Homo sapiens: one gene and its partner. The protein of the gene in region 2 purifies or fractionates together with the protein of the main gene of each other region. This does not show direct contact. Each region holds a gene or a part of one and is shown on either strand. Other genes may lie near its edges.

What was found.
Region 1: the proteins of POGLUT3 (region 2) and ACSF2 fractionate together in Homo sapiens (co-fractionation; one large-scale study listed by BioGRID). This does not show direct contact.

What each region holds. Positions count from the first base shown.
Region 1 is NC_000017.11:50,471,216-50,475,638, reverse strand, and holds the end of ACSF2 (medium-chain acyl-CoA ligase ACSF2, mitochondrial isoform 2 precursor), read right to left. Parts: intron 3,271-4,423; coding exon of another isoform or gene 3,256-3,270; exon of another isoform or gene 3,241-3,255; intron 3,212-3,240; coding exon 3,060-3,211; intron 1,975-3,059; coding exon 1,833-1,974; intron 1,746-1,832; coding exon 1,635-1,745; intron 1,441-1,634; coding exon 1,372-1,440; intron 1,138-1,371; coding exon 1,087-1,137; 3' UTR 802-1,086; downstream 1-801. UniProt on the Homo sapiens protein: Acyl-CoA synthases catalyze the initial reaction in fatty acid metabolism, by forming a thioester with CoA. Has some preference toward medium-chain substrates. Plays a role in adipocyte differentiation.
Region 2 is NC_000011.10:108,495,477-108,500,015, reverse strand, and holds the start of POGLUT3 (protein O-glucosyltransferase 3 isoform 1 precursor), read left to right. Parts: upstream 1-1,631; 5' UTR 1,632-1,649; coding exon 1,650-1,851; exon of another isoform or gene 1,852-2,055; coding exon of another isoform or gene 2,056-2,215; intron 2,216-2,797; exon of another isoform or gene 2,798-4,539. UniProt on the Homo sapiens protein: Protein glucosyltransferase that catalyzes the transfer of glucose from UDP-glucose to a serine residue within the consensus sequence peptide C-X-N-T-X-G-S-F-X-C. Can also catalyze the transfer of xylose from UDP-xylose but less efficiently.

The DNA of each region.
Region 1 (4,423 bases), on a different chromosome or scaffold from region 2:
ATTAGTTAAGACATGGTGGCACATTCCTACAGTCCCAGCTACTCAGGAGGCTGAGGTGGGAGGACTGCTTGAGCCCAGGAGTTCGAGGCTGCAGTGAGCTATGATCATGTCGCTACAGTGAGTCACTGCACTCCAGCACGGGTGACGGAATGAGATCCTGTCTCTAGAAAATGGGGGAGGTGGGAGTGAACTGGAGAGTATGTGAATTACATCTCAATCAAGCTGTTATACATATATAAAAAGAATACTTCTTGCTAGACTAATCTGGCAACAATGTGAAAAAGAATTAAATTAGAGTAGCTTAAAAATAAAAAATTGGGGCCAGGCGCAGTGGTTCATGCCTGTAATCCCAGCACTTTGGTAGGCTGAGGCAGGCGGATTGCTTGAGGTCAGGAGTTTGAGGACCAGCCTGGCCAACATGGTAAAACCTCGCCTCTACTAAAAATACAAAAGTTAGTTGGGTGTGGTGGTGGGTATCTGCAATCCCAGTTACTTGGGAGGGTGAGGAAGGAGAATCACTTGAATTAGGGAGGCAGAGGTTGCAGTGAGCTGAGATCGCATGACTACACTCCAGCCTGGGTGACAGGGCAAGACTCTGTCTCAAAAAACAAGAACAACAACAAAAATGGGTTGGTATCTCAAAGGGATACCAAGGGTGAGGGTTAAATTAAGTAGATAATCCACATCAAGGTGCTCTGCACTCTCAATGACAAGGAATAGGACGTCTGAAAGTGCTAGTTCCCCTCAGTGTCTTCCCTTCTCCATCCTGTAGTAGCTGCCAAGAGAGCCCACCAGCAAGAAGCCAAAGAAAACAGAAGCTCTTTATGCCAAATCACAAGGACAGACAGGGGAATGTGGGGGATGGACAGGAGGGAGGGCCTGGGCAGGCTGCCTGCCTTTTGGCACCTTGTGCCCAGGCGAGTTCCCGGACCCATCCAGGAGCTCTTAGTTCGTTCAGTCAATTCCTTGACATTTGATGTGCCTGGCTCAGAACTGGGTGCTGGGGACATCTAGGTGCATAAAGCCAGGTTGCATTCTGACAGGAGAGAGTCAAGCCAACCGGCCAGGACAGGCCTGCTGCTTTATTCACAGATTTAGATGTCGTTCCATCTGCTCTCGAAGTTTGAATTTCTGGATCTAGAGGAAAGAAAATGGAGTTAGGGTTACCAGCTGTCTTGGTTCACCCAAGAATAAGGGGTTTCTCAGGCTCTTAGTGCCAAAACAGGGAAAGTCCCCAGGCAAACCAGGATTAGGTGACCCGGTCACCCTACTGCCAGTCTCTCCACACCCATTGCTGAAGGAAACAGAGGTGGGGCCCTATGGGGCCCCAGAGCCCAGGCTGCCCTCCCCAGCCTCCTCCACCTTACACACCTTTCCTGAAATGGTGAGGGGGTAGTTTGTGACAAACACGATGTACTTCGGAATCTTGAAGTGAGAGATCTGCAGACCAGAGGGAGGGAGGTAAGGCGTGAGGCTGCGCAAGCTCACAGGGGTATGGGTAGGGGACCAGGGGCTGGCCTGGCCAGGAGTCAGCTTCGTCAAGGGCAGAGCAATCCCCACCCTGGGCTGGTTGGCAGAGGAGTGGGTGAGCAAAGAACAGAGCAGCATCAGCTAGGTTGAGCGGAGGCTCCCACCTTCCCTTTGCAGAAAGCTTTTATCTCCTCCACCGTGGTCTCCTCCCCGTCCTTCAGCCGAATGCAGGCACAAATCTCTTCCCCCATCCGATCGTCCTTCACTCCCACCACCTTCCAGGGCCAAAGAAAAATATCAGACATCACCGTGTTCATGTGTGTTTCTTGTTTCTGGGGGCTCACCTGAGCCAAGTGCCTCACCTGCACTTCCTGCACCTTCGGGTGTGTGTGAAAGAAGTCCTCGAGCTCTGCGGGGTAGATGTTCTCACCACCCCGGATGATCATATCCTTAGAGCGGCCCACGATCTTGCAGAAGCCCTGCTCATTCATTGTGGCGACATCTCTGTAAGGAAAGCCCAGGGGCAACCTGTCATCTCTGCCTTGTTCACTCACTTGCTTGCTCAGTCGTGAAACATTTATTGACCAGCTACTATGTGTCTTCCACTGCTCTAGACTCTGGGAGACATAGCAGGAACAAGACACAGTCTCTGGAATTAATAGTCCAGTAAGGGGAGGGGAGGTAGACAAAAACAAAACAATACCTATAACATATTCTGTCTCTCTCAACACATCTATACATAGCTTTTCACGACTGGCTTCTTTCCAGGTCTCAGCTCAAATGTCTCCAGACATCTTCTCTGTCCACTCAATCTAAGGGAAGCTCCCCTCCCCACCACAGCCACTTTCTCTCCTATAACCCTATTTCATTTTCTTAGTGTTTTTTGTTTGTTCATTTGCTTGTTTGTTTTTGAGATGGAGTCCTGCTCTGTCGCCCAGTCTTGAGTGCAGTGGCGCGATCTCGGTTCACTGCAACCTCCATCTCCTGGGTTACAGCGATTCTCCTGCCTCAGCCTCCGAGTAGCTGGGACTACAGGCACGTGCCGCCACCACGTCCGGCTAATTTTTGTATTTTTAGTAGAGGTGGGGTTTCACTGTGTTGGCCAGGCTGGTCTCAAACTTCTGACTTCAGGTGATCCACCCGCCTCGGCCTCCCAAACTGCTGAGATTACAGGTGTGAGTCACCGCGCCTGGCCTATTTTCTTGGTGTTATTTATCGATGTTGGGCATCATCTGTCTTCCTCCAAAAAGCAGGATCCTTCTCATCTTACTTTCCTCTGGACCTCTAGCGGCGAGAACGGTGCTAGCACATAAGGAATTCTAGTAAGAATTTGCTGAGCTAACAAATGAGTGACTGAATCTGGACTCAGATTTTGCAGCTGCTGGTGTAGGGTGATGACCCAGTTGCTTTCTTCTGTGCTATGTATGATCATCCCCACCGTATACATTTTGGAAATTAAGACTCCAGCATGTGAGGGGTCATCTTGATACCCACATCCTCACGGTGCCAGGTTAATGTTCCCGGCTCAGCCTCAAGACCTCCAGCCTCCCCTCAGCGGCCAGAGCCTCCACCCCGCCCTGCCTTCTCACCCTGTCCAATACCACTTGTCCTGATCCACTGCTTCCTCTGTCTTCTGAGGCTCACCCCAGTAGCCCAGCATGACGCAGTACCCTCGGATGCACAGCTCCCCGGGCGTGTTCAGCTTTGCCAGCGTCCCTGCCTCCATGTTCATGATCCGGGCCTGGGACAGGATGGCCTCAGGTTGGGGCTTCCTATCCTCTTGCTTCAGGATAGGTGGTCCTTGGAAATGGAGAGAGCTTTGCCTGCCCCCAACCCCCCAACCCAACTGCCTGGAATGAGGCCCCCTGGCTCTGCTTATCCCCATCCAGAGAAGGGAGACAAAGGCTAGAGTCGACCCAAAGCCAGTGAGAGACCTGAGCTGGGCATGAAAGAAGAGCTGAGTCCCAGGCTGGGAGGGCTGAGGAAACAGAGTGGGCAGGCAGCTGCTGCAAAGAAAGAGGTTTGTGGACTGCAGAGCCAGCTGAAGAATTATAAACCGTGCAGAGGAGAAGGGAGTCTCCTCTTACTTCCCATTAAGCAGCAAATAAGCCAAACAGGGTGGCATGGCAACACCATGTGAACAGGAGAGACAGAGTCTGAAAGCCTGGTAGAGAAAAGAGCCACGGCCACCGTGCCAAGGAAAGCTGAGCCTCTGTGTGCCTCAGTGTCTGTGTCCGTGAAATGGGGTGAGTGATGCCTGCCCCTGTTTCCCTTCCAGGTGGGCATCTTAGTGACAGTGGCAGTGCAGCTGTAGCACACACGGGAGGAGGCTCACATCCCTACTCAATCCCTGGGTACATGGTTGCTCTGGCGGGAGGGCAGGGCAGATTCACGCCAGGACAGCGGTCAGCCCCAGGGGAAGCAGCTGCTTGTGCACGGGGGCAGCGATCCCCCAGGGGCGGGAGCAGAAGGGTGCAGGGGAAATCAGGAGCCAGCTGGCACAGCCCCAGTGTTGGAGCAGGAAAGGAGGCATGGCTGGGCATTTGAGATTCAGGTGCACTCTGGGGCAACCTTTGAGGGGCAAAGGGACCGCCCCAAAGGGATAGGCTGCTTGGGAAATGAAGTGTTTACGCCAAGCAAGAAGAAGAACTCTGCTAAAGCGAGAGGCGAGCACCACTGGAGGAAAAGAAGCTGTGTAGGAAAACTCTCTGTGCTCTGGCTCCTCTTTGAGGCTACCCTGGCTGCCCTGAAACAGACAGTGGGCTTGGCAAAAACACACCTCAGACAGGAAGGGAGGCCGCGGAGAAGTTCAGCTGGCAGCCGCTCACAGCCACTGTTCCAGCTCTTCCCCTTTCATGCTTAGCCCACAGAGAACACTCCGGGCCAGGCCTAGCACACCCCTGCTGCTGGGGGGCTCTAGGCATCCTGAGTGAGCCATTTGACTCTCTCACTG
Region 2 (4,539 bases):
AAGAATACTGTCCATAACCACTGCTTAGCATTACTAAAATAGGTCAAGAGAAGTGTGAAAATGTGGGAAAGATTTTGCCCTGGTAAAACTTGGTCACAGCAAGAATGCTGAGTAGCACGGTTAAAGCCGTGAGGCGGACAAAGGCTTGTCCAGTGCCTGGCTCTGATGTTTTGGGCATTAAGTTCCCCCAAGAGGGTGCAGAAATCCTGTGTCCATTCTGGGGTGTGAGTTCCTTCTGGATCATTCAGCCAGAGGAGAATCTTTATTGGCTTTAAATAAATTCAGATCTATTAACAATCCATTAACAAATTTGTATCCATTAACAAATTGGATAAAATGATCAAAAAAGAGAGGCAGATAGTAACCTTGACAATCTCTTCCTGGATCCAGCGTTCATCTTCTGAGGAGTGGTGGAGGTGGCTGAGACCAACCACGCACCACCACCCCTTCTCCCACTTCGATTACAGAGGCTTTGAGGTAAAGCTCGCACAAGGGCTCAAGGCAAGGCCTGGTCTTCTGCCACCCCAGTGCCCAGCTCCTCACTCTGGGCTTGGCCCAAACTCCGTGGATGTTCTGTAAACACCTGCTGGAAGAAGAGGAGTGCGGGAGGAAGCGGGGAAAGGGATGTGTGGGGTGGGGGGATCACGGTTCTGTGAGGGAGGCTGCTAAGCAGAAAAGCAACAAAACCGGCCACAAGAGAACGGTGCTGCTGTGAACAGAGGGCTGTGAGGGAGGGCGGGGGGCGTGACCTTGGCGCTCATCTTGTAAACTCGGAGACATTCCTTGGGAAAAGATATTTCCCTAAACTACATCGATCTTGGGGCCGGACCCTTTCATCGTCCCACAACAATCACCACCGGGTCTACGTCCTTTAAAAACACCTGAGCGGCGGACCCGGTGGCTCATGCCTGTAATCCCGGCACTTTGGGAAGCCGAGGCGGGCGGATTGCTTGAAACCAGGAGTTCAAGACCACCTTGGGCAACATAGGGAGACCCCGTCTCTACAAATAGTAATAGTAATAATAATAATAATAATAATAATAATAATAATAATAATAAATTAAATTAGCCAGCGTGGTGTCGTGTGCCTACAGTCAGTCCCAGCTACTCGGGAGGCTGAGGCGGGAGGATCTCCTGAGCCCACGAGTTCCAGGCTGCAGTGAGCTGTGGTCGCGCCATTGCACTCCAGCCTAGGCGACAGAGCCAGCCCCCTTGTCTGTATAAAAACAGAGAAAGAAAAGAGAAGAAAGAAGGAAAGGAAGGAAGAAAAAGAAAGGGAAAGACCACTGGAAGTGGAGGCCAGGCGTGCCTGAAGCCTTGGCAATCAACAGCCAGCGCACACTCGCAGCCTCGGTCTCTGGGCGGGCCTCTCCACCCCTTTCCTCCACGGGGCCTATGGGGCTGCGGGGAGGAAGGGGCGCACCCATCGTCGACCCCTACAGGGCGCGCAGTGGGTGATTGCGGCACTGGCTCGCGTTCCCGCCCGAGGGAGACGAGGCGGGACAGCGGGCGGGAAAGGGAGCCTGCGCCGCAATCTTTCCCGCCCGAAAGACCCGCCCCGCGGTGGGCCCCAGTCCCCGCCCGGTCCGCGGCGCTGCCGGCCCCTCCTCGCCGCCGCGGAGCTGGACCGCAGTTGTGCCCCGCCGACCATGCGCCGCCTCCCGCGGGCCCTGCTGCTGCAGCTGCGCCTCGCCCTGCTGGTGGCCGCGGGGGCCCCGGAGGTGCTGGTCAGCGCGCCGCGGAGCCTGGTGTGGGGGCCCGGGCTGCAGGCGGCCGTCGTCCTGCCGGTCCGCTATTTCTACCTGCAGGCGGTCAACTCGGAGGGCCAGAACCTCACTCGCTCTCCCGCAGGTAGTGTCCAGCCGCCGGCCTCCCTCGTCCCGCGGCCGGGTCCCCGCGCGTCCCCGCCGCCCGGGAGTCCGCCCGCGGCCTGCGTGGCGTCCCTCCCCGGCGTGTGTCGCCCCTTTTTGGGTCTGGTCAGCTCCTCTTCCCTCCTCCCGCCCATACTCAAAGCGGGCAAAAATCACCACGAAAGTTTGTGGAATGAATGAATGAATGAACTTGAAGGGCCCTTCCGCATTTAATGTGCAGGGACTGATGTTGCGAATGGACGGCGCCCGGGCGTTACAAGGAGTGTGCCGTGAGTCACACGTTGCCTTCCATCTCGGACTTAGTTGTCTGAACTGTGAGGGATTGCAGGGAGCGCTTTCCAGTGGTGAGTCATCAAGCCGACGGATCGCGTCGGATTACATGGCTTAGGCCTGGTGGGTTTGGAGCAACGAAATCCTACGCAGAGGAAATGTCAGAGCCGTAGGAAGGAGGAGGGGTTTACGTGTTAGTTTTTTGTTTCCTTTTTAGTTCTGAGTTTTTGAAAGCAGATTACAGGAACTAGGGAAACTCAGTAGAAATCATTCGGTTTTCCCTCCACGGAGGGTGAGATGGATCTCGTCCTGAATCCCTTTCTGCCCGGTCCTCCTCCCACGTTGTCCTTCACGTCTTAACCTTTGCAACTTCTTAAAACTTGTCCTGCTGGTTTCACGCTGTTGTCAGTCAGGATTTGCTAATGTATAATTTGGGGCTCTGGCCAACTAGCACCTTGTTGTATCAGCGAAGAGACAATTAGAATAAACCAGTGCCTCTGCCCCTGCTAGTCCAGCTGGGAACATAGCTGCCAGAAGTGTGTCCCAACTTGGGAAAGGGGTAAGGGGGTCTTGACAGCTGGGCAAAGCAGAGAATTTAGGAACCAAACATAATTCACTTTTAGATTTAATGATTTTTAAAATTTCATTCATTCAAGAAATACTTCTTTGATGTCTACTTCTGTGTTTGGTAATTCTGCTGGGAATCTAAGGATGAAAAGACAATGCCTGACCATCAAGGAACTTACAGTCTGTTGGTCAAAGACATGCAAATAACTGATCACTGTACAAGATAATTGAAGGTATGTACAGAGTGCAGTGGCAACATTGAAGCACTGCCAGAGACTGGAGAAATCCAGGAAGATTTCAGGAGCAGAGACTTGAAGGATGAGAAGGTTTGCTGGGCAGGCATATAGAAGGACGCCATGGCATGTGCAGAAGCACAGAGGCGTAGGAGACCGTGGTGTTCGGGAAAATAAGTACTGTAATTTAATGATACTGAGCGGAAAAGCCTGGTTGATTGTAGCCTCTGGTCTTCAAGCGCCTTGAATGCCAAGCAAATGACTTTATAACTAGATAAAAGAGAGCCACTGGAGAAATTTGAGCTGAGGCAAGAATCTGCCTCTCCCTTAACTACCTCAGTGGCTTGTTTTCTACATTTGATTCAGAACACCACTCCTGAAGTTGTCTTTGGGCATTGCTTTGATAACGTGTCTACCAGTTAGACCCTAAATACTCAGACAACTGGTTTCATATGCATGATATGCATTTAGGTAAAATAATTCCGACTCTATTGACAGAAACGCATGTGTGTATATCAGGGTTTCACAAACTTTTTCTTTAAAGGGCCAGATAGTAAATAATTTAGGCTTTGTAGGTGATATCATCTCTCACATTTATTCAGCTGTGCTTTGTAGCCATGGACATATAACAAACCCGTTTATGTTACAATAAAACTTTTTATGGCCACTGAAATTTCAATTTCATATAGTTTTCCATAAGTCACAGAATATTATTATTTTGATTTTTCTCCAACCCCCCTCCTCCTTTTTTTTTTTTAAGAGACAAGGTCTTTGTCACCCAGGATGCAGTGCAGTGGTACAGTCATAGCTACTGCAGCCTCAAATTCCTGGCCTCAAGGGATCCTCTTGCCTCAGTCTCCCCAAATGCTGGGATTACAGGCATAATCCACCATGCCCATCCCCATTTTAAAAATATAAGAATCATTGTTAGCTTACAGGATTTACAAAAACAGGCACTGAGCTGGATTAGCTAGTTTGTCAATCTCTAATGTATGTTAAAGACTCTCAGTTAAAATCCAAATGATACATGACTTAAAGTTGTGTATATGTTTTATATGTACATATATTATATATACATAAATATATTTAAACAAACGAAAAAGTTTACAGACAGTTTCTATTAAATATCTTAACAGAAGGAAAGTTACATTTATGATTCTGCATGGTTTACCCCTGTGATCTGTGACTTTTCTTTTTTTACCTTTTTTAGTCTTAGAAAGACTTCTCAGCCTGGGCAACATAGCAAGATTCCATCTCTACTTAAAATAAAAATTTTAAAAATTACCTACTTGGGAGGCTGAGGCAGAAGGATCAGTTGAGCCCAGGAGCTCAAGGTTGCAGTGCATTATGATTGTGCCACTGCACTCCAGCCCGGGCAACATAGCAAGACCCTTTCTCTAAATAAATAAATAAAATGGAACTTTTTGGACAACCTTACTTTCATTCCTTTGGATTCCCTTTGTTTCCTTTCAGGCCTCTTGATTTCTGGCTTCCAGTTAAAAAGGTGCCGTATAGTTCTGAAAACTCACCCAACTAGTTTCTTACATTTCTGCCACCAACATTCACTTCCAAGTCCTGAAGTCTTTCCCTCTTCAAGA